7 linked regions of the Homo sapiens genome follow. The protein of the gene in region 6 purifies or fractionates together with the protein of the main gene of each other region. This does not show direct contact. Each region holds a gene or a part of one and is shown on either strand. Other genes may lie near its edges. The genes, in order: CNOT10, SLC30A9, YME1L1, OBI1, NFXL1, KIAA0232 and ZNF146.

What was found.
Region 1: the proteins of KIAA0232 (region 6) and CNOT10 purify together in Homo sapiens (affinity purification with mass spectrometry, with the first as the bait; one large-scale study listed by BioGRID). This does not show direct contact.
Region 2: the proteins of KIAA0232 (region 6) and SLC30A9 purify together in Homo sapiens (affinity purification with mass spectrometry, with the first as the bait; one large-scale study listed by BioGRID). This does not show direct contact.
Region 3: the proteins of KIAA0232 (region 6) and YME1L1 purify together in Homo sapiens (affinity purification with mass spectrometry, with the first as the bait; one large-scale study listed by BioGRID). This does not show direct contact.
Region 4: the proteins of KIAA0232 (region 6) and OBI1 purify together in Homo sapiens (affinity purification with mass spectrometry, with the first as the bait; one large-scale study listed by BioGRID). This does not show direct contact.
Region 5: the proteins of KIAA0232 (region 6) and NFXL1 purify together in Homo sapiens (affinity purification with mass spectrometry, with the first as the bait; one large-scale study listed by BioGRID). This does not show direct contact.
Region 7: the proteins of KIAA0232 (region 6) and ZNF146 purify together in Homo sapiens (affinity purification with mass spectrometry, with the first as the bait; one large-scale study listed by BioGRID). This does not show direct contact.

The regions. Positions count from the first base shown.
Region 1 is NC_000003.12:32,705,688-32,709,187, reverse strand, and holds part of CNOT10 (CCR4-NOT transcription complex subunit 10), read right to left. Parts: intron 519-3,500; coding exon 368-518; intron 1-367. UniProt on the Homo sapiens protein: Component of the CCR4-NOT complex which is one of the major cellular mRNA deadenylases and is linked to various cellular processes including bulk mRNA degradation, miRNA-mediated repression, translational repression during translational initiation and general transcription regulation.
Region 2 is NC_000004.12:42,070,530-42,074,029, reverse strand, and holds part of SLC30A9 (proton-coupled zinc antiporter SLC30A9, mitochondrial), read right to left. Parts: coding exon 3,339-3,500; intron 1-3,338. UniProt on the Homo sapiens protein: Mitochondrial proton-coupled zinc ion antiporter mediating the export of zinc from the mitochondria and involved in zinc homeostasis, zinc mobilization as well as mitochondrial morphology and health.
Region 3 is NC_000010.11:27,144,385-27,147,884, forward strand, and holds part of YME1L1 (ATP-dependent zinc metalloprotease YME1L1), read right to left. Parts: intron 3,285-3,500; coding exon of another isoform or gene 3,114-3,284; intron 1,207-3,113; coding exon 1,044-1,206; intron 1-1,043. UniProt on the Homo sapiens protein: ATP-dependent metalloprotease that catalyzes the degradation of folded and unfolded proteins with a suitable degron sequence in the mitochondrial intermembrane region.
Region 4 is NC_000013.11:78,635,156-78,638,655, reverse strand, and holds part of OBI1 (ORC ubiquitin ligase 1), read left to right. Parts: intron 1-3,457; coding exon 3,458-3,500. UniProt on the Homo sapiens protein: E3 ubiquitin ligase essential for DNA replication origin activation during S phase.
Region 5 is NC_000004.12:47,883,584-47,887,083, reverse strand, and holds part of NFXL1 (NF-X1-type zinc finger protein NFXL1), read left to right. Parts: intron 1-1,084; coding exon 1,085-1,205; intron 1,206-1,426; coding exon 1,427-1,586; intron 1,587-2,646; coding exon 2,647-2,738; intron 2,739-3,500.
Region 6 is NC_000004.12:6,880,227-6,883,726, forward strand, and holds part of KIAA0232 (uncharacterized protein KIAA0232), read left to right. Parts: intron 1-560; coding exon 561-740; 3' UTR 741-3,500.
Region 7 is NC_000019.10:36,235,606-36,239,105, reverse strand, and holds the end of ZNF146 (zinc finger protein OZF), read right to left. Parts: exon of another isoform or gene 3,448-3,500; 5' UTR 2,666-3,447; coding exon 1,787-2,665; 3' UTR 338-1,786; downstream 1-337.

The sequences.
Region 1 (3,500 bases), on a different chromosome or scaffold from region 6:
AGGGCAAAAATGAAATACCTCACTGTCCCCTAACATTCCAAAATGCTACTTCCTTAATGTACTAAAGTAAGAAAGGATCAGGTACACTAAAATAGTGTTGAAACAGCAAAAACCCCACAAACATCACTAAGTGTTTTCAGCACTTTCCAACAGCATTTTTAACAGTTATCTTCAAAATTTGGGAAGGGACACTCAAAGAAAACCTGGATTACATTTTTATCTTTTCTAACCATTAAGCAAAGCTGATACGGCTTTTCTTTGAATACTGGCATGGACTTCTCGGATTTAGGTTATCTAGGTAAAAGTACCAGAGAATTCTGCAAGTATAGGGAAGATAGGGAAATTTTTGACTTGACAGATAACATACCAAAAGGCTCTATGAACTGATAAAGTTTTTCACCAACTGATATGGCTTCTGTATACTGCCGCAGATGATAAAGAATGACTGCTTGATTATAGTACAACATGCTGTTTTCAACATCATCTAATCCATCCATTTCTTCAACAGCTGAGTGGACCTATAAAGCAATCAACAGAGGTTATATTTTAACATTAAGGAAATAAAAAGCAAAAGTGAAAGAATTCATATGAATAAAAAGGAACATAGGCCAACATTCTTATTCTGAATTTTTCCATACTTTCAACAGTATCTTTAGATTTTAATTACTCTCACATACTAAAAATTATTTTCATTCTTCTGTGCCACACATAATAAAATTTTAGGTAAAATGTTTTCATGAGACTTTATTAAGTACCCAGCACATGGCTAGACAATTATCTTCCTTGTCACTGTGAAGCTATCTTCCCTGTTTCAATTGGTAACACCACTTCTGAGTAGGATTCCCATCTCCTAGTCTCACAACCTACAAGAGGCTACACCAGGCGTGCAACAAACTCAAAATGACCTTTCCCATAAAAATGTCACGTAGTATTCATAGTTTGATTTCATTTTGTAAAAACTAAGGTAAAATTTAAACATTAATAATAGCTGGCCGGGCGTGGCAGCTCATGCCTGTAATCCCAGCACTTTGGGAGGCCGAGACAGGCAGATCACTTGAGGTCAGGAGTTTGAGACCAGCTTAGCCAACATGGTGAACCCCGTCTCTACTAAAAATACAAAATACAAAAAAAAAATTTAGCTGGGTGTGGTCGCACGTGCCTGTAGTCCCAGCTACTCGGGAGGCTGAGGGAGGAAACTTGCTTAAATCCAAAAGGCAGAGGCTGCAGTGAGCCAAGATCACATCACTGCACTCTAGCCTGAACAACACAGCGAGACTCTGTATCAAACAAAACAAAAATAGTTAACTATTTACCATGTGCCAGACTTGCTATGTTAAAACTTTTACAGGTTAATCCTCACCATACCTCAAGGTCATAGATAATTTTTTTTTTTTTGAGATGGAGTCACCCAGGCTGGAGTGCAGTGGCACGAACTCAGCTCAGTGTAACCTCCACCTCCAGGGTTCAAGTGATTCTCCTGCCTTAGCCTCCTGAGTAGCTCGGACTACAGGCATGCACCACAACACCTGGCTAATTTTGTATTTTTAGTAGAGATGGGGTTTCACCATGTTGGCCAGGCTGGTCTTGAACTCCTGACCTCAGGCGATCTGCCCACCTCGGCCTCCCAAAGTGCTTGGATTACAGGCATGAGCCACCGCACCTGGCCGAGGACATAGATAATTTCATTTCCACTTTATACATAAGGAAACCAGCACAGAAAACTTAATTATCTTGCCCAAGGCCATAGGGCTAGAAAGTATATTTTCAGGTTTCGTTCCCGTAAAAAAGAATAGATTTTTTTAAAGTACTCAATAATAAAAATATATTATTGCACACATGATGGTTAGAAAAGGCTTTTATGGGCTTCACTAAAGGCTAACATCTGTAACTGACACAAAAGAAAAAAAAAAAAGCATGACACTTTGCATTCTCAAACTGTATACCCCCTTATGTAAGCTGTAGCAATGGGCTTTTAAATTTTAATCAAGCTTTACAACCATTGCACAATTCCATGTAACACATGAAACTGGAAGTCTACTTGTATTAAAACTAACCTTTGCCATTATGAAGATTGCAATAAATTATTGTTCAATATTAAGTAATTAACTCTAAGACCAACACTTCCATAGAACTCTGATATACAGTACATGGATTTAACAGCCTTGGTTTGACTAATGGCAAGGAACCTGAAGGTTCACTACACACAATGAATTGTAAATTTTGTAACTGGACTTCAGCAGACGTCAACCACCCACGTGGTTAAGCTTGACATGGTTCAAATGTTAGCAAGTGGTCCTAGCTGACCAACATGTGCATCTCAATGAGTTTGGGAACTTTTTATAATCTTCACTTATCAAGTCACTATCTTAAAGAGATTAAAAACAGTATCTTCAAACAGTGAAAACTCAATTTCCAAAGGCAACTCTTTCTGTAGTTATGTAATGGAGAGAGACTGAGTTAAGAAGAGTTTAGCCAGAAAAGCTTTTAGATAAACTATGGCGTTTTGGATTCAGCAATGGTTGAATAATTATCACACAAATAACTTTGCCACATATTCTATGACTCACCAAAATAGTCTAGTAACTGCTCCAGCCAAAAGAAAAACTACTCATTAAGTGAAATTAGACGTTTGCTAATTAAAATGGAATAGGTTGAAAAGGTGTGTCACTGTGCCCGATGTGACTGCGAACAGAAGTATGATTTAAAGAAGTCAGTAACCACAAGTACAAACACTTCTAGGAAACTCAAGAGTTGGAAGGCCCTAACAAACCTTATAAACAATAAAAGCTAGTGAAAGAACTTCACAAAGTTTTTTTGGCCTAACTGGAAGTTTGCAGGAATTGCTTATTCAAAAAAAGTTTAAAGGCTGAACTTATTCTCAAAAACCAAACAAATTTGTCTTGGAAGAAACTGTCTATGGGGTCATAGGGTGCATGTACTAGATTATCAGTAAGCATCATCTTTCTTTTGATTCTGGAACACTAGATAAAATCATCAGTAATAATACTGGAGTAATGAGGAAACGTGAGGACATACAAATTTATGAAGACTGAGACAGGTAGGAGAACAGGCTCAAGAGTCAGAAGGCCTGGTTTAAATCTGTTCTTCCCCTTCCTAGTTGTGTAAATTTAAATTAGACTTCCTAAATTCTGGTTTTAAAACTGAGATAATAAGCACCTACTGCCTCAAGAGTTGAATGTGAGGATTATATGAGATAAGGCATAAAAGGCACTTAATACAGAATTTGGCACCCAGTATGCATTCAATAAATGGTAGCTATTATTCTCATTTTTGAATTTTAATGGGGTTTAAAAATTACTTTATGCCTATAAAGGATTACAGAGAGCCTGAAGGGACAACTTGCTTCTCTACCTGTGTCACACTTTAGGGTGATACTATAGAGTATCATGGTACTCATGATTACAGGAAAGGTCTCATGACTCCCTAACAGCATGAAGCAGTAACTAAAATTACAGGCTATAGAGTTAAATACAACTGAG
Region 2 (3,500 bases), about 35 Mb from region 6:
ATAAACACATTTCATTATTTGGCTGGTATGTGAGTAGCAACTAATAAATATATTTAGATATACTTTTTCCTTATGTTCTTACATATAACTAACTACAGACAGAAAACTGTTTGGAGGGCTCCCATATGATCAATCCCTGCCACCTATACGCAAGCCCTTGTGTGATCTCCTCTCACTGAATGTGGGCTATAACTACCAAATATGGCAAAGTGATGAGATGTCATTTCCAAGACCAGGTGACTAACCTGTGACTTTTGTCTTGTTCACACTCGCTCTCTATTGCCTTATCAATTTGCACGCTTTGATTAAGCAAGCTGCCATGTTGAAGAGGCCCATTTGGCAAGGAGCTAAATCTTGCGAACAATCATGTGAGTAAGGTTAGAAGCAGCCCCTTCCCCAGGAGATGACTATAATCCCAGTCAACACCTTGATTACAGTCTATGAGAAACCCTGAAGTCGAAGACCCAGATAAGCTGTGCCCTGATTCCTGACTCACAGAAACTGTAAGATGGTAATATGTTGTTTAAACCACTAAGTTTTGGGCCAATTTGTCACACAGCAGTAGGTAACTAATATACTGTTTAAAAAAATTGTATGAATTTTCTGGATTACTAACGTATTTTTTCCAATAATTGAATCCACAGATATTCACTCTTCCACAAAATTTCGAATTTGCCAGTCTTTCAGTTTATAGCTCTTTTTTAGACATTACTTATTAAACAATATATACAAAATTATAAACATGTATGTAGCAACAACAGAGCACCAAAATATATGATGCCAAAACCAAGAAGAAATGAAGGGAGGAAGAGCTAATACAACAACAATAACTAGAGACTTCGATACTTTCAGTAACGGATACAGAGGCCGGGCACGGTGCTCACACCTAGCACTTTGGGAGACCGAGGCGGGTGGATCACCTGAGGTCAGGAGTTTGAGACCAGCCTGGCCAACATGGCCAGTGATGAAACCTCGTCTCTCAGGAGTTTGAGACCAGCCTGGCCAACATGGCCAGTGGTGAAACCTCGTCTCTACTAAAAATACAAAAATTAGCTGGTCATGGTGGTGAGCACCTGTAATCCCAGCTACTTGGGAGGGTAAGGCAGGAGAATCACTTGAATCTGGGAGGCGGAGGTTCCAGTGAGCCAAGATCGTGCCACTGCACTCCAGCCTGGGCAACAAGAACAAAACTCCATCTAAAAAAAAAAAAAAAAAAAGGATAGAACAATAGAGCAAGAAGATAATTAGGGAAATTGAAGTCACTATAAACCAATTAAACCTAACAAACATCTACAGAACACTCTACAACAACAGCAGAATATACATTCTTCTCAAGTGCACATGAATATTATCCAAGACTATATGTAAGGCCATAAAACAAACCTTGGTAAATTTAAAAGGACAGAACTAATATAAAACATATTCTTTGACCACAATAGAACAAAATAATAAATCAATAATGGAAAGAAATCTGTGCAACTCACAAATACGTAAAAATTAAGTGACATACTCCCCTAAATAACTGAAAAGAATAAAAAAAGAAATTAGAAAATACTATTAGATAATGAAAATGGCACAATATATGGAAATGTGTGGAATGCAGAGAAAGCAATACTTAAAGGAAAATTTGTAGCTGTAATTGTCTATTTTAAAAAAGAAGAAACATCAAATTAAAAGCTTAACCTTAAGACAGTGGAAAAAGAGCAAACTAAACTGAAAGCACGCAGAAGGAAAAAAATAATAAAGATTAAAGGAGAAAGTCATGAAAAAGAAAATAGAAAAACAACAGAGAAAGTCAATTAAACCAAAAGCTGGTTCTTTAGAAAGATCAAGAAAATGAACAAACCTTTAGCTACACTGACCAAGAAAAGGAGAGATTCAAATTACAGAAATGAAAGATGAGACATTTGTACCAACACTAAAGAAATAAAATGGATTACAAAGGAATATTATAAATAGCTGTATACCAACAAATTAGGTAAATTAGAAGTAAAAGACAAATTCCTAGAATACAAGCTACTTAAACTAAGTCAAGAAGAAACAGACAATCTGAACAGATCCATAACAAGAGATATAATTACTAATCAAAAAACTACCCACACAGCAAAGCTCATATCCAGATACTTGAATTCTACCATTTAAAGAAGCTAACACCAATTATTCACAAACTCTTCCAAAAAAATAGGAGAGAACATTTCCCAACTCATTCTCTGAAGCCAGTATTATCTTAATACCAAAACCAGACAAAAACATCACAAAGAAAGGATATTAATTTGGATTATCTCACATTATGTTAATAACTCTAATACTGACTTTCATAATGCTCAACTTCTAATCTTTTTTTTTTTTTTTTTGAGACAGGGTTTTGCTATGCTGCCCAGAATATAGTACAGTGAGTGGCTATTCACAGACATGATCATTGCACACTAGCCTCAAACTCGTGGCCTCAAGTGATCCTCCTGCCTCAGCTTCCCAAGTAGCTGGAACTATAGGCATGTGCCACTGTGCCCATCTCTCATTTTCTAATCTTGTTCCAATAAGATAGTTACTTTTCAAGATTAAACATATAGGGCATAGAATATAAATCTAGTAATCATTAATATATTTTACTAATTCAGATATACGGGTCATTTTAAAAAGATTTAACTTAAAGATTTCAAGTACAATACACAAAAAAATCTTATTTTAAAGTTTGAAAAAATATAGAGCGAGTTAGTAGAAAACTGGGTTTTTAAAGGTTTGTTCTTTTATTTCATTATAAAACCACAATGCTGCTAGAATTTCACTGAAAAGCACTATTAGAATTCTGTATCTCTTCTGCTGATTATCTCCTAAGTCTCCAGTTCTTTAGTTTTACATAATTTAAAAGATAAAGATTATAAGAAAAATACTTAAAATAAGCTAAAACAAAGTCTATTTTCAAAGTAAATATAAATTATATTTAATTTGGTAATCATTGCCCAATGAACAAAAATCTTTTTAAATTTAATATATTCAATTTGTAATTGCAATGCGAATATAAGGCAACTCTACAGGTTCCATATTAAGTATTTCCACTAAGAAGACAACTACTTTGCAAACTTCCATTCTCATTATATCAACTTGACTCTTCCTTACTCTAAAAATTAGAAGTATAGAAAATTTAAAAGGAAACTTAGAAGGAGTTTCCTAAGTGTATTCTTTCTTACTTCCAGGATTATAATTCTGAAAAGTTACAGACTAAAACGTTCTGAAGACGAGGAATCCAAAACTTCCTCTGGAAGTATTTACAAACCAGGCATTTCTGTTTTTTAATATGTTTTTGTAAGCCTTAACAGGATTACTGGAATAAGGCTGACCTTACTGATGGGTCATTCTCCAGGAGTTCAGTGAGCCGTTGTACTTGTTCTGGCTGGATGGACCGCCCTAAGAGTGCTTCTGTGTTAGTGTAGATGAGGAATGCTGAGACCATGCCTAATAAGGTGCCCACACCCAAAGAACCTAGGCTGTCATACAGTGGA
Region 3 (3,500 bases), on a different chromosome or scaffold from region 6:
GTCAAGAATTAATGAATTAAGTTTATGCAAAGGACAGCTTCAAATCAAACCTTCATTATAAACTAGTCAAACCTGCTATTTTGTTCCTGGATTTTTATGGCCTGTTTAAGTGCCATCCAAAGAAAAACTCATAAAGTTGACATCCCTTTTCAGACTAGTATGAACCCACTTATTATACTACCATACTGTTATGAGATTCAAGTAAAAAAAAATGTAGACATTCCACAAAAGGGATAACAACTGTTTTTTTAATCAATGTATTCTCAAAGATTAAGTATGTTTCCTGGAATTAAATGTGTGTCACCTAAAATTAAAACAAACAACGCCCCCCCATTCTGCTAAATGCAATGTGGTATGCTGGATCAGATCCTGGAAAAGAAAAAGGACACTTGCAGAGAACTAGTGATTTGGTGAAAACAAATTTTGTTGAAATTCAAATAGTCTGTAGTTTAGTTAAAAATAAGGTACCAATGTTAGGCCTGCACGGTGGCTCACGCCTATAATCCCAGCACTTTGGGAGGCTGAGGAGGGTGGATCACGAGGTCAGGAGATCAAGATCATCCTGGCTAACACGGTGAAACCCCATCTCTACTAAAAATACAAAAAATTAGCCGGGCGTGGTGGCGGGCGCCTGTAGTCCCAGCTACTTGGGAGGCCGAGGCAAGAGAATGGTGTGAACCCGGGAGGCGGAGCTTGCAGTGAGCGGAGATTGTGCCACTGCACTCCAGCCTGGCTGACAGAAGGAGACTCCGTCTCAAAAAAAAAATTATTGTACCAATGTTAATTTCCTAGTTTTAACAAATGTAACATGATTATGTAAGATGCCAAAATTAGTGGAAGCAAAATTCTGTACTATCTTTGCAACTTTCCTGTAAATCTGGTACTATTTCAATATGAAAAATTGCAAAAAAAAAAACAAAAAAAAAACACTTCAGGAAAGAACCCAGCCCACAATAAACGCTACTGTGAAAGCTAAGAAATGGTATCTATAATTATTAATAGTGCTAAAATATTTAATTGGAACAAAAAACACATTAACATACCATATTTATTTTCAAAGAAGGATTGTGCAGAGACATGGGATGTATGCCAATGGGAAGAAATGTTTTTGCCTTTACAAAATCCAGGAAGTAGATTTTCTACCAGCTGATCAATCTGTCCAATTTTTAGTTCAGATAATCCAAGGTCCCTTAAGTTAAGTGAAGGCTGTAAAAGATTGGGTCAACCAGGTATGCATTAATATTATCAAGATATTTAACCTAAGGAGTACATATTATCAGTTAAAACAATCAGATTTTAAAAGTCTAACAAATATATTTCCTTTTTTTAATATTTAAAAATAAATTGATGCAAATATTTTCACAGTTCGTTTTACTGAGATCAGTCATATGAGGTTTGACATAGGTTAAAAAATTATATTCCTAATGGTATCCTTAAATAAAGAGATGACATTTCAGCATGAATGAGAAAAACTTTTTTTTTTTTTAAATCAAACCCAAACCACTACTGTCCTAAGCATTATGGTTCACAGAATCAAGTGAAATGTATGGCATTTTTTCCTTCTCTCCATACAAGGGTACTCTGATCAAGAGCTAGTCTATCAACTATTGATCAAGCATTTATAATGACAAGAGTGTAAGAGTAACTAACTGCAGGGTTACAAAGTATGTTATATAAGGTCCAGGGGATTTTCCCCAACAGTGTAGAACTGATTGGAGGATAATAGTAAGGTTCTTGAATTGGGGAAATTCCATTCAAATGATAATCCTCACCAGTCCATGGAGCTTTTAAGCCCCTAAGCAGCCATAAACAAAAGCCCACTTGACAAAGAAATGGTATGCTTGGTTACCATAGGACATCTCACTCCTCTGGCCTCATTGCTTAGATCCTTCCTTGAACTCAGAGGTTCTAAAGTTACCCATATCTTCTAATAAAGAAGAAAATTAAAGTCAAAACTGTGTGAAAATCAGGCAAAAAAGTCTAAAAATCACAAAAATGTGTGTATACCCACTTTTAAACAACAGGATAGGGATTATTTTCTTGTCCACATGAGCTGAAAGAGAGGCACTTAAAGGCAAGTAACAATTACATGTTACTCAAACCCAAAACAGCTAAGGTGGGAAGATCGTTTGAGGCCAGGAGTTTGAGACCAGCCTGAGCAACATGGTAAGACATCATCTTGATGAAAAATTTAAAAATTAGCTGGGCATGGTGGTATGCACCCGCAGCACCAGCTACTCAGGAGAAATGTTTGAGCCCAGGAGCTGGAGGTTGCAGTGAGCTATGACAGCATCACTGCACTTCAGCCTGGGCTACAAAGGGGAGACCCTGTCTCTAAAAATAAAGTTTTTTTTAAAAGAGGCATGGACACGGATTATATAGCTCTGGACTGATGTCTGGGAATACGGTACTTTTTAAATTAGCTATAACTCATATTCTTAGAATTCATTTTCTCAATACTAACATAACTATAAAATACACCTTATTTCCTAATAGTAAGGATCAAAGGCAGAGATCATGCCTTACTCATCTACGTATCCTAGCATACAACATGACAGCACATAGTAAAAGACAGTTAAAGGCATGATGAAATAAAATACTTAAAAGTACTTTTTAAGCTATTAAAAATGATCAAGGCGGCTTAGGGACGGGGGCAAACAAAAAGCCATCCAAGGGTCTGGAATATCTCAAAAAATTCAAGGAAAGAAAAAATTAAAGAGATAGGTTATGGCCAAACTGTGAAGAGCCATGTTTGAATTTAATTCTCTAAGTAACATGATTAGTTCTGTCTTATAGAAGAAAATGGAGAACTAAGGAAGATAGACTGGCCTAGCATGGTGGCTCGAGCCTGTAATCCCAACACTTTTGAGAGGCTGAGGTGGGAGGACTGCTTCAGGCCAGGAGTTCGAGATCAGCCTGGTGAAGAAAGCAAGACCCTGTCTTTACAAAAAATTTAAAAATGATAAAACAAACAAACAAAGAAACTAGACTGGATGAGAGAGAAGGCTGATGGAACAAGTGAAAGATGGCAAGAACCTGAACTAAGCCGTGACTAAGAACGATGGACAAAACAAATCATAGACAATAGGCATTTGGAGAAACCCGCAGTGTACAGGGATTGAGAGGGAGAAGGGTTCTGGACGGATGTGCCAGTTATCGGTTGTGTCCAAGCTCTTCTTCATCCTTTTTGCTGGCTCCATGAACATGGATCTGTACCCTTCGAATATTTTTCCTTTGCCAATTGAAACAATGTTAAGCTTCGTCAGGAAGTCACTGAACATACACTGTAGGAAGAGAGGTTTTGATTCCTGGTTGTGGTATGCTCATTTAGCAAGTTCCTGTCTGTAACACCCGTGGTTTCTATAGCATCTGGCTCCTGTCAATTGTGCAGTTTCACCAAACCCTGGCTCCTGGCGTGCACAATGGCCAGCAGGACCTAGCAGCTTCCCCTGGCACCACTCGTGTAACAGCTTCTCTAGTAGGACACATCCCCAGGAACA
Region 4 (3,500 bases), on a different chromosome or scaffold from region 6:
ATCATTAACTGCCAAGAAATATCAGGTGGTTCCATGTGTGACTATAATTAGAGACTGTTGTGCTTCTGTATAAGATTGCATCTTCTTCTAGAAGAATAATACCAATTTAAAGGATGTGTTTCTGTTTCGTCCTCTTTGTGGTTTGCCATAGGTTTTTTAAGCTTATATCAGCGACTTCCCCTGTGTACCTAAAAACAAACACATAACCATTTTCGCACCAATGAAAGGAAAAGTTTTGACCTTATCTTTTCTTTTGCTACCACTCTCTTATTTTTAAGATTGTAGATAGATAAAGACTTGGTGACTAATTCCAGGACAGCAATAAGCAGCTGCTTCAGAGTACCTCATGCAAAAGAATGTTGTGATTTATGAAACTGGTTCATTTTTTTCAGTTTTTCTTTGAACGAGATACAGCATGGTGAAAAAGGCAAACCTCTAGGATTTTTCGGCCTAGAAAGGGAGATAAGATCCATGCCATCAGCACTAGATGTTACAGGCAACTCCTACAACACCATCTTGACCCAAGTGATCAGCCTTTAGCTTGAGTTCAAGTTTATCCACAGTGGAGTCCTCTTGTGCTGAAAGGAGATGGCTTTGTAGTACTCAGTTCTACAATCACATATTCAACTATTTGCATTTCCTTAAAATACTATTCCTGTGTGAAATTACTAAATCTTATCTCTCAAAATTATTAATGAGCTCCATATGGTATTTTAAAGGAGTTCCCCTGTATATTGGCTCTCAGGTCCTCAGGTTAAGTAGCAGAGAAATACTTGCAACTTAGATGTAAGCCATCTTCCACATATAAAATAAATGTTGTTTGGGCTCAGAAAAGGCCAGGGTGAGGAGAAGAGAGAGCCTAGTGCTTTTAGATAAAAAAGAAACTACAGACATAATTGTACTGAGTTTGTTATAAGTGTGTAGGAGGGAGAAGTGCATAGTTTCTTTGGGTATTGATGACCAGTGTTAGTACCTTGATTTGTTAGAAGACAATAGGATACTAAAAGGAATGCCAACTCGGAAATTACAGTATTTATCAATTTGCCTTGTTCCCTTTAATTTCCCTGGTTCTTCTTGAGCCATTGGTAAGCACTATATGATCTCCTTTGTAGTTATTAAACTTCGTTTAAAGTTTTGGCAGTAAATATTTCTTAGAACATGAGGCTTATAAGGGTGATATGAGGGATGGATATTAAAGAAGAATACATAAAGCACAGTTAATTTTCCTTTGCTCTTTTAATGGTCAAATGTTAAATTCAATACTCAAAGCTACCCTGGGACTTCAGAATTCTTTGGGATATTGAATAAGCCCATTTTCTATGCCTAGTGATGCTAGTAGGTAATAGGTTATAAACTGGGACATAAGTGAATGAAAAAACATGGACTGCAGAGATAAAAACTAAAGTGTGGAGTAATAACATACTCAACATAATCAAATACAGGAATACAAAAGATTCAGAATAAAGGATTACTTAGCATGAATGAAGTGGACTTTTTTTCTGATGTTACCTGGAATGGGTGAGTTTTGAACCATCGTGAGGCCAGTGTCATTACCCAATCAGTGTTGAGAATGCAGAAGGGTTAGCTGAAATATTCATTATTCTTTTAGGTGCAAAAGGTAGGCAGAACTCTGCCCTTCATAACTTTTATTCACCTAACCTTCTTGAACTTGAAAAGATCTCTGATAGTTGAGGAACTAGCCAGCCTATAATGAGAAGTATTAGAGAGTCAAAGGACTGTTGAGAGACTGAAACATAGCCATACAGTAGTGGTGGGGGGCAGGGAAGGGGAAAGGAAATCAAATGAGTTTCTAATTTAAGCTTGTCATCATCATCAAAAAGCATTCACTAAATGCCTCCCCTTATGGTGCTGTGCTTGAGAGCTTAATTCATTGTCTGCATATATGAGGAAGTAAATGGCTTTCCTTATATCTTCAGAGAAGCAGTAATGGTGTTTATCAGTCACTTAAAGAATTAACTCTCCACAGTCCTGGTTGGTGTGCATTCATGAAGATAAGCAGGTGCCTAGAGCCCAGAGGGAACCTGGATGGGTCTAAGTCAGGGAGTTAGACTTTATGCCCCCAAATAATGTTCTCTACCTTATTTCTTCTGTGATCCTTGTGCTGCAGCTTATGTGGGTAAGTAAGTAATACAGTCAGAAGTTCTTGAAATTCATCTAAGTAATAGCCAAATTTTTGAAATACGTTTTAAAGGCTTCTTGGTTTAAACCTTTTTTGGTGACAGTTATTCTTGTGACCCATTCACTTTAAATGTAAATGTTCTGGTCAAAGAATTTCCCTTTCCCAGGTTAGTGAGGTTGGTTTCTAGTCTAGGGAGTGTTATTTTTCTTTGTAATACATAAAAGCAATGAGTAGGGAATTTAAAGGAAGTAGCTTCTAAGAAGACTCTAAAATTTAAGCACACTAGTTTTCAGTGTGTCCAGAATCAGTGTTGAGCCTCTAGATTTTCTAGCAATTGGTGTCCTGTTAGGTAATTTTTAGGTGTTATACAATTCAAGAAAGAAAATCATACTTGGAAGGATTTTTTTTTTAATCGAAGAACAATTCATAGAATTTATTAGAAAATACTGATCCAGGCCTGGCAAGTGGCTCATACCTGTAATCCTAACACTTTGTGAGGCTGGGGCAGGTGGATCACTTGAGGCCAAAAGTTCAAGACCAGCCTGGCCACTGTGGCAAAACCCTGTCTCTACTTAAAATACAAAAATTAGCTGGGCATGGTGGCACATGCCTGTAGTCCCAGCTCTTCGGGAGGCTGAGACAGGAGAATCACCTGAACCCTGGAGGTGGAGGTTGCAGTGAGCCAAGATCACACCACTACACTCCAGCCTGGGCAACTGAGCAAGACTCTTTCAAAAAATATAGATAAATAGATACATAGATAGATAGATAGATAGATCCAATTTTGAGGGCCCTAGAAGTTGTGAGCCAGAACGTTGGAAAAGCCTTTTTGAAGAGAAAAAATCAAGTGGTTAAATCATATTAGATTTGTTATCACTAGAAAAAAATTTTTAAACAGCACCCCAGAAATCAATTTCAAAGCTCAAGAATTAACTCTTCAGCATTAGTTTGCCGATATTGCATGTGGTATAATGTTACCTTGCCTAGAATATTCAGTTATGTGAAAAAGAAAAAAAATCACACATACATTTGCCATTAGTATGGTCCCTTAATGACTCTAAGCTAACTAACATAGTTTTGTTTATTTCCCTGGACAGGAGATTTGCAAAGTGCTTGGGGAATATGGTTTTAAAATGCTCAGTAGTATTCAGTTTCTGAAGTCATTCCCAGTAGTGATTTTAAGTTTCTGAAGGCCATGTTCTACTATTCAGTTTTCTGATATTATCACTCTAAAAAATACGGATGGCTCATGTTGTAATTTTTACAAGTCACTTTTATTGTAGCTTTTGCTTACTTATTTTCAATTTGTTATTTTAGGCAAATAAAAAATTGAAATTGGAAAATGGTGGTCTGGTGAGGG
Region 5 (3,500 bases), about 41 Mb from region 6:
ACCCATAACAAAAGAGCGTAAAAAGCTGAAACCAAAATAACATTTTTTTTTATGTTTAGAAGAGAAATATTTGGGATTATATCCTAAAATGGTGGCTTAGTACTTAGTCTTTCACAAAGCACAATTAATGGAAAATTGACTGTGCTTGCTACTAACCAATATCAGGTCATGAGAAAGAAGTTATTGGGAATTCATCTAAAAATTGTGTACTTGGATAGATGTATGAAAGTAGGCCAACGATATTATTGTTAATGTTAAATTTTCCAAAGACTTAAATCCATTTTTGCTTGTTTTAGTTTTGAATGAGTAATGTGTTAAATTTGTTATTTAGAACAGAAGTTTTAGCACATTTTAGAGAAATGTCTAAAACTTTATGAGGTACCAGTGTACAGAGAAAAAAGTGTTATAAATCAGAGGCTGGGTGCAGTGGCTCACGCCTGTACACCCAGCATTTGGGAAGCTGAGGTGGGAAGATTGCTTGAGTCCAGGAGTTTGAGACCAGCCTGGATGACATAGTGAGACCCCTCCATCTCTATAAATAATCAAAAATTAGCTGGGCATGGTGGTGTGTGTCTGTAGTCCCAGCTACTTGGAAGGCTGACGTGGGAGGATTGCTTGAGCCCAGAAAGTTGAGGCTGCACTGAGCTGTGATCATGCAACAGCACTCAGCTTGAGCAACAGGTTGAGACCCTGTTACAAAAAAAAAAAGAGAAAAGTATTACAAATAAAAAGTATACAGCTTGTTGAATTTTTACAAACTGAACATAGCCAGGTAACCAAAACTTACATCATTAAACAGAACATGACCAAAATTTTCAACACCTTCCTTGCATCCTTCATAGCTATCACTCTGATTTTGAACAGTACATTTTTTCTTGTTTACTTTATATAAATGGAATCATGCACTATGTACTCCTTGTGTCTGGCTCAATGTTTTGTGGTAAGATTCATTCATGTTGTTGTAGTTTCTTCATTCTTGTTGTAGAGTATCCCATTGTGTGAATATACTAAATTTATGTATTTTACCATTAATAGGCATTTGGGTAGTTAAGGAAACTTTTTAATTGTCAGACTTTTTTTTCAGGCAGTTGCTATCCCTGCCCAGAAACCGTAGATGTGAAGTGTAATTGTGGCAATACAAAGGTGACAGTGCCCTGTGGCCGAGAACGTACCACAAGACCACCCAAGTGCAAGGAGCAATGCAGGTGAGTTTGAAGCTTTGCACAAGCTTCCATCTGATGTTGTACAAATTTAAATTCATATTGGCTTTTAATAATTTAATTTTGCTTTAGTGTTTTAAAATATTAATATTCACAGTATACTCATTCTATATGGAATCAGAAGATATGTAAATAGATAATTGTCCTTTAGATGTAATTATTCAATGACTAAAAGTAATTTTTGAAAATTGTACTTTATGATTTAGTCGACCACCAACTTGTCATCATACAAGTCAAGAAAAACATCGCTGTCACTTTGGTTCTTGTCCACCATGTCATCAACCTTGCCAAAAAGTTTTGGAGAAATGTGGTCACTTGTGTCCTGCTCCGTGTCATGATCAAGCATTAATAAAGCAGACTGGCAGGGTAAGGGAATAATACTATTAGAGAAATAGTGCATTGCTGTGGGTTGTACTTTCTTGCTTTTACTTAGTTTTTCAATGAGCAATGATTAAGCACTTATTGGGAAGCACTGTGCTTGGAGCAGGGTACAAGGTAATCAAGACTTGATTTTGTTTTAAGCAACTCACAGTGTAGGAAAGGAGTGAAACCATTGTTTGCAAATACAGTGTGATAGTTACATTATGATCATGATACAGGTGAATTTGGCAGTCCTCCTTCATATATTGTGGTTTAGGGTTATAGATATCTCCTATAATCTTATTTTAAAGATTTATTCACTTTTTAATATTTTATTTAATATTTATTTATTTTTAGTTATTTAATTTTTTTTTTTTTTGAGACGGAGTCTCACTCTGTTGCCCAGGCTGGAGTGCAGTGGTGTGATCTGGGTCACTGCAACCTCCACCTCCCGGGTTCAGTGACTCTCGTGCCTTAGCCTCCTGAGTAGCTGGGATTATAGGTGCCTGCTACCATGCCCAGCTAATTTTTGTAGTTTTAGTAGAGATGGGGTTTCAGCTTGTTGATCAGGCTGGTCTCGAACTCCTGACCTCAAGTGATCTGCCCGCCTCCGCCTCCCAAAGTGCTGGGATTACAGGTGTGAGGCACCACGTCCAGCCCAGCCTCATGAACATTTATTGAGCCCTTACTAAATATCAAGCTTTTTTTTAGGTGCTGAGGAACAACAGTGAGTAAAATGATGGAGATTATATTCAATTGCTAGATGTTGGAGTTTCCAATTGTTTTTCTCATTTCCTTATTGGAAGTAAAGGAGGCTACACTGCCTTTGTTCTACCATTTATAAACTGGATTCTGTCTCAGTTATTAATATCAAATGTCTGTGGAGAGGAACAATTTCATTTAATACAGATAAAATGAAATATTTCAGTAAGCACAATTTATTGATTATTTGAAAAAATTTCAACCTGCTTGAGCAGAGGATACATGGAACTATTTTCTTAGATTCTTAAAATGGCCATATGATTTAATCCCTCTGACTTAAAATTCTTATGTATTTTATTTGTAGCACCAGCCTACAGGCCCTTGGGAACAGCCTTCTGAGCCAGCATTTATTCAGACTGCATTACCGTGTCCTCCATGTCAAGTTCCTATTCCTATGTAAGTATTAGAATTTCAATTAAAAAAAAAAAACAAAAAACTTTTGACATAGCTTAAAGGGTATCTGAAGTCAATCTCCCTTTTTTCTTAGTTCAGTTCATTATTATTTCAGGCCTAGCCTATCAACTAGTGTGTCTGTCTTAACCTTCATTCTTTTCAAACATGTTTGTCATACTTGCATATAAACCTACTATAGATATCTTTTTTTGAGTCTTTACCCCCAGTTGGAGTTTGATGCCCTTCTTAGCTTTCCATAGCGAGTGCATGCAATTACAAAAACAAATCCAAGGAACATCATTTGTTACTTTTCCCGATGATTCCCATACTGGATTGTAAGCTCCCTGAAGACAGAAGAAAGCCAGGTTTTAGATAAGGCAAACTTGGGGAATATTTAAAGGAAGCCTTGGAAATGAGAGGAAGTAGTTTCCTGGATGGGCCAGTGAATGACTGGGACTGAGCTCTAAGGAGCTGAACCTACAGTAATACGGAATCCTGGAATTTTTTATACTTCCAGCAGAGGTTATGGAGTATAGGGGAAAAAGCACAGAATGCTGAGAAGCAACATAAAGTTAGAAAAGGGGCTGTTGTCTACAACTGAGGTGCCAAATTAAACATTGGTATTTCTGGTGTATTGGTCTTTTAAAGAGAGGATTGTTTTTGTTTTTTAATTCTAAAAGCTTTCATTTCCACAACATTCCTCCCAGTTGAAATAGCATGTATATTTTTGTGTATTGGTCACACAGTCAAGTTGGGAGGCAAAGT
Region 6 (3,500 bases):
CCCTTCCCAACACAGAGGTCTGCAGTGTCCCCTCACCATCTGTACTGTGTCACTGCAAACTCCCTTCCCAACACACAGGTCTGTAGTGTCGCCTCACCATCTGTACTGTGTCACTGCAAACTCCCTTCCCAACACACCCGTCTGCAGTGCCCCCCTCACCATCGGTACTGTGTCACTGCAACTGGCACATGTTGGTTTGCTCGTTCATCTCCCCAGCGAGCCTGGCATGCGCCTTCCACTGCTGGAGTCCCTGTGCCCAGTAAAGTTCCTGGTGCATAGCAGGTACTCAAAGACTTTGAAAATGAAATAATTCTTTATCCTACCCTAACATGGCTAACATTTTGTCCAAGTGACTGAACATGTGGAATTAGGATTTTGGATCCTTCATGGATCAGAGAAGAGAGGCGGTTTTGCTCTGAAACAGTAAAACTCTGCATGTTTGTAACTCCACAGGAAAACACTGATGATTTATTATTTCTTCTTTGTATATAGATAGAGTATCTCACCCTTTTGGGGAAAAAAAAGTCTTTTTGATGTGTTGAAAATTGTTTTAATCTTAGGTGTCTTCTGTTTATGAAGCAAGATGTACAGGAGAGAGAGATTCTGGAGCAAAGTCAGATGGCTTCCGCGGAAAGATGTGCTCCAGCGCCAGCTCCACCTCGGAAGAGACAGGCTCAGAAGGCGGAGGCGAGTGGGTGGGCCCTAGTGAAGAGGAGCTCTTTTCTCGAACTCATCTCTAAACCTGCAAAATAGTACAAATTATTGTTTAAAAATGATATGTGATGGAAAATTACTCTTCAGTGAGACCTGTTAATCTAAAACAACAACTTAGGTTTCCTCTTCAATTAACTGATTCAGATTGGTAATAATTATCTTTCTCTTCTTGCTTATTTTAGAGTTGAGGACAGCTATCCTGTTAAAGATTTTTTTTCCCAGCTGTTAAATTCTTGGCTATTTGAAATAGACTAGATTGTGTTGTCAAATCAAGAATGGGTGTGCATGTGCTTGTCTTAGAAGTATCACTGCTTTTTGCATCTTAACTGCAGTTAATTTTCCTTCCGACTGCGGTTATATCACTATGACCTTACTAGCATTGCAGTGTCAACAACCACTTCTGCTCTTCAGAGACTTCAGCTTTGGAGCATTTAGGCTTTGTTCTCCAAGAACTGGGATATCCATTCTTACCCTACAGTGGCTTGATGCCTTTCTGAAGGCGAGAGGGAAGCCTGGGTGACTCAGCGGTGGTCTCCATTCAGCAAAATCTCATGTACATTTCCAGTAGGAACCGCAGAGGTGTGCTTTTCAAGACTCACCAAATACTGTGTTTTCTCTCTTAGGATTTCTTTTCCCCTAAAGTATCACGGAAGATACTATGGTTCGTGACTTTCTTGCTAACTGAAGAAGCCAAGGATTTGGGGTGTGGGGTCGTATGCGAGACACAGTGGGGTAAGGGTGCATACCCCACCCCTTACCTGCTCTCATACTGCAGTTACATTTACACCAAAACCCCATGCAGGGTTCTTTGTGGTGAGTGTTCCATACGTGCTAAGGACCTTAGTTACAGATTGTTACTTTCTGGTGACCTATGTTGAATTGAAACCCCCAAAACTTGAAATTGTGAACATTTGACATGCAGTAAAGGCCACCTCATCACCCAGAGAAATCTTTGGCTGCTGCAGCTAGCCGCTTCTTGGCTGTGATGTAGTATAGCTTCGATCTCATTTTGTGTTTGAGAGAATGTTCTGGGCAAGTTCTGTGTGTGGTGGGTTGGGGCGGGTAGAGTCATGAGTTTTCCACATCCCTGTGTGGTGGTTTTGCTGACTGTCGCTCCGTGGGACTGGCTCCCGTTTCTCCTTGGTGAGCCCGGGGAGCCGGCGCATCTTGTGAGTCGCGTCTGTGCATGGCGATCCGCTCCTCCGGCTCTCATGGCATTGTGCCACAGGCAGAGGCCAGGAGGAGCAGTATGTGCACAGCCGAAACATTTTACATTTTTTACATTGTTTTTCTTTTTTAACCAACTCATTGTTTAAAAAACAAAAACAAAAAAAACCTAATCTGTGAAATCAGCGTAGCATGCCTGGAGCATCAGGAATGGCAGAAAAGTCTGATGCGCTCTAGACAGCTTCACCACTCATTTGGGCAGGCAGTAAACACACATATAATTTATTAGCTGGGAGCTGAACTGGCTGTGAAATCTATGATTTGCTTTGAACATTTGGGTTTTGTTGCCTTTTTCTTAATTGATAACACAGAAAAGAAAGTACCATCAAAGACTGTGGAGTCATTGAGGGTCTGTGTGTCCTCACCGAGAGGGACCTGGTGTGCCCGCCGGGTCGATCTTCCCACGTGTTAGGGTTTATTTTTATACAACACATTTTTTGACACTTTAAGGTGGGTGGGTGTGTGTGTGTGTGTGTGTGTGCGCGCGTGCGCGCGCGCATGTGTAAGGTTTTATGTTGCTGTTATTTATTTACGAACTTCAGATACGTTTTTATGTATTTTTCATTCTTCTGGAGCTTCCTAAAAATTGATAAGCATCTGCACTGAAATATAATTTAACAGCAAAAGTAAAAAAGGATTGAAAGTTGTAAATTCCTCATATCACTACAGTGACGATTATTCTAGAAATCGTTGCTTGTGTAGCAAAGACCAAATAAATAGATTTCAGACACAACCTTGAGCACAGTTGATTTTGGACAGCTGCTGTTTATTAGGAAAGGGCTCCAGGTGGCAAAGGTGCACACTTCCTCAGACACAGGTGAGAAGATGCAGCACCTTCCACAGGTGAATGGGACGGATTCGAAGTGAGCAAAGGGATTCACAAATTATGTATTTATTTGTTTTCATAGTTAAGTAGCTGAAGCTCAGAGGCTTTCAGCAACAGAGATGAAAGTGTGGCTTTTTAGTTTTGTGAATGGATGATCACAAAGAAAAAGCATTTTTAAAAAGTTGGCAAACGCTGAAACGCACTGTGGTATGAAGCGCATTGCATTTCCATAGCACTGAAGTACCAGTTTCCATTCCTGGGCTGAGATTGTTTTTCCCGTGGTTGTATTGTTCTGATTTCACGTACACCAGAGTAACTGATTTTTTTTTGTTTGTTTTCTTGTGGAGTTAACACCAAATAAAAATTGTAAAAAACAGTTTGTTGTTTTTATTTCTCATAGCAAAGCTTCTTTTGTAAAGAACTCCAGCTTCCTTTTACTCATGAGCATCCGTGGAAGAGCAAGTGCCCAGGTTACATTTGTTCTAGATGGAGGTCATTTAGCTCTCATTGCAGACACTGCTGAAAACATTGTGCAGCTTTGCTAGGGAAGAAAGTGGTGTGGCCTGCTGAGAAATCAGCGGCTCCTCCCCATCTCACCCCCAGCACACGCAGGGACTACTACCTGAGTCTGCAAAACACATAGCATTTTTGTCCGTGGATGGTACACAAAGCTCAATCTTTTTGTTTTCTTCTGGGGAAAAAATTAAATCTTTATATGTTAATATGATTGATA
Region 7 (3,500 bases), on a different chromosome or scaffold from region 6:
TACCAGGGACCTGTTTCATGGAAGACAATTTTTCCACGGACGGTTTGTGGGGGTAGAAGAATGGGGATGGGATGTTTTCAGGATGAAACTGTTCCACCTCAGATCATCAGGCGTTACATTCTCATAAGAAGCGCACAACCTGGATTCCTCACATGCACAGTTCCCAATAGGGTTCGCGCTCCTATGAGAACTAATGCCACCGCTGATCTGGCAGGAGGTGGAGCTCAGGTGGCAATGCTCGCTCACCCGCCACTCACCTCCTGCCATGCAGCTGGGGGGAGCTGGGGACCCCGATATAGTGTGTATGCCATGTTAAAATAATTAAAACAGATTTGGATTGTGCTGTCCTTTTAAATTTTAATAAAATAGATTAATTTCATATTACATAGAGAGCAAGTCCATCCATTCATCCGTGATAAAATTTTAGAAATATTTTCTATAAAATGTTTAGTATTTAATTGGAAATGAATCCAGTATAACATGACTTCCACAGATACAGCATTCCCATCCTCACTCCCATTCCTATTTTGAGAAATTTTAAAAATACAGAAAAGTACAAAAAATAAGACAAGATATCCCTATACCACAATCCAGAATCAATCAGTATCTTCTTATATTTACTTGAAGTCTTTTGAAAGAGAAGTGGATGTTTATATAAAAAGCTGAAGTCCCCTTTAACCAATACCCATCCCACCTCCCACACTCATTATTTTCCCTTCTCCACTCTTCACAGGTGACCACTATCAAGAGTTTGGTCTGTATCCTTCCAATCCGTTTCAAAAACATGTACATACATATATGCATCCATTACCAATAGATAGTACTGAGTTTTATGAGGAAACTTTTAATTCAAATTTACAAAAAAGTCATTGTACTATCTGTATCATTCTGCAACTTGATCCCCCCTCAACAATTCTGGGATCTTTCTGTTAATACATGTGGATTTCATTTGTTGCATTTTACAGATATATAGTATTACATAAGAATTTCCCATATTGTTCGTGATGGGCTTTCTCAGTTGTTTCTAATTTTTGGCTACTACAAATCAAGCCACAGTAAATATCCTAGTGCGTATTTCCTGAGCATTCATACTCATAAGTAGAACCGCTAAGTATTTCTCAAATTGTTCCAAGGAATGTTTCCCTATTCCCAAGGTCATATGCATTTTAGTACATAGCTTTTCCATATTTCTGTTTTTAATCTCTGGATTCACTTTTGTGTATAGTTCATGGTCTATTTTTCCCCCTTGGAGAACAAACTACCTCCACTTAAAAAAAATAGTTCCATTATTTCCTCATTTCCTGATGCCACTTGTATCATATTCCAAATTCTAATAAATGCATAGGTCTTTTTTTGAAATCTCTTCTGCTCTGCTCAATCAATACCACAGGAGTCTTAATATTAGTTGTAGATGACCATGTCATCTATTTTTGTCTGTTCCTTTCCAATATTTACAACTTAATTTTTCTTGTTACTGGCGAAGATCTCCAGATCTATGGTGGTAGCAATAAAAAACAGGCCTCCATTTTCTGTTCCCACTTTTAGTGAAAATGTGCCTAAACTTTCACCATTATCTCTGCTGCAGGTTTCTCTGTTGGACACAGGGTTTTAATCATATGCATGTCTTTCTCTTCAGTACAAATTTTCTGGTGTCCCTTAAGTTTTTAGTACTTGTTAAAGTTAACCTCATTCGTGGTGCTTTGCTTCAGAAGGATTATTTCTGGGGCATGATGAGGTGCAAATTTCTAATGAAAGCTTTCCCACTTTCAAGGCTTTCATGGGGTTTTTAGTGAGTATGAATTTTCTGGTGTCTAATGTGGTGTGACTTCTGGCTGAAAGCTTTCCCACATTCACTGCACTGATAAGGCTTCTTACCTGTGTGTATTCTCAAATGCAGAGCAAGGGTTGAGAACTGAGAGAAAGCTTTCCCACATTCATTACAACCATAGGGCTTCTCCCCTGTATGGCTTCTCACATGCACAGTGAGAGATGAGCTCTGAGAGAAGGCTTTTCCACAAACATTGCATTCGTAAGGTTTATCACCTGAATGAATCCTCACATGTACAATAAGTGATGTTCGCTGAGAGAAGGCTTTTCCACATTCGTTACATTCATAGGGTTTCTCTCCAGTGTGAATGTTCTGATGTTTTATGAGGTACTTCTTCTGGCCAAAGGCTGTTCCACATTCACTACATTTAAAAGGCTTCTCTCCAATATGGATTTTCTCATGCTCAGTAAGGTTGGATTTGCCACTGAAGGTTTTTCCACACTCCTTACATACAAAGGGCTTCTCTCCTGTGTGAGTTCTCTGGTGTCTGATGAGGTTTGACTTCTGAATGAAAGCTTTCCCGCAATCTTTACACTCAAAAGGTTTTTCTCCAGTGTGAATTTTCTGGTGCGTAAGGAGGTTTTCCTTCTGGCTAAATGATTTTCCACATTCATTACATTCGAAAAGCTTCTCGCCAGTATGGGTGTTCTGATGTTTAATGACATACTGCTTTTGGCTAAAGGCTTTTCCACACTCGTTACATTCAAAAGGTTTCTCTCTCGTGTGAAAATGCTCATGCTCAGTGAGGTTTGATTTGTGGCTGAAGACTTTTCCACATACCTTACAGGCAAAGGGGTTTTCCCCACTGTAAATTCTCTGCTGGCTGAGGTGTGACATCTGAATGGAAGCTTTCCCACATTCACAAGGTTTCTCTCCAGTAAAAATTTCTTGATGAGTGAGGATTTACTTTTGGCTGAAGATATTTCCACATCTCTTACATTTATAAGGCTTCTCTGTGTATGATCTCCCAAATGCAGAGTAAGGGATAAGGTTTGAGAGGAAATGTTATCATACTCAGTATATTCAATGCTTTCTCTCTAGAAAAATTTTCTAATATTCAATGAAGTATTGCTACCTTCACTAGTTTCTCTCCAGCATGAATTTTCTGCTTCTCAATGAGATTGTCATCTAGCTAAGGGCTTGTCAATACTCCTTAGAAGCACAGGGTTTCTCTTCAGCATGACTTGCACGTTCGACGAAATGCAACATATGAGTAACAGTTCCCCCACATTCAGTAAATTCATAGGGTTTCTCTCCAGTATGAACACTCTGGTAACAGATGAGGTACAAACGTTTTAAACCAAAGACATTTACACTTAAAGGGGGTTAATACCATAAGGAGTAAGCTGTGGTAGAGAAGCTCCCAACTAAGTCCCTTGATGATTCTTTCCTACACAACCTCCCTCATGATTTCAGTCCAGGTTGTGTTTCAAACTGAAAACTTCAAAAAGGTGTGGCCTTAAAACAAATACGATCTGAGAACAGAGGAAGTATTTTTTCTTATATTCAACGCTCTTTTTCTCAGTCTTTCCTGGAGATGGATCAACATGCCTCCCAAGTCCTGGTGCCTCTCAAGTCCTGGTGCCTCTCTATCTGTGCATCATCTTCTCAGGCTTCTTCTAAAATGGAGTACAAAGAACCATAGCACAAAGGAGTTAAATTCATAAAGTGC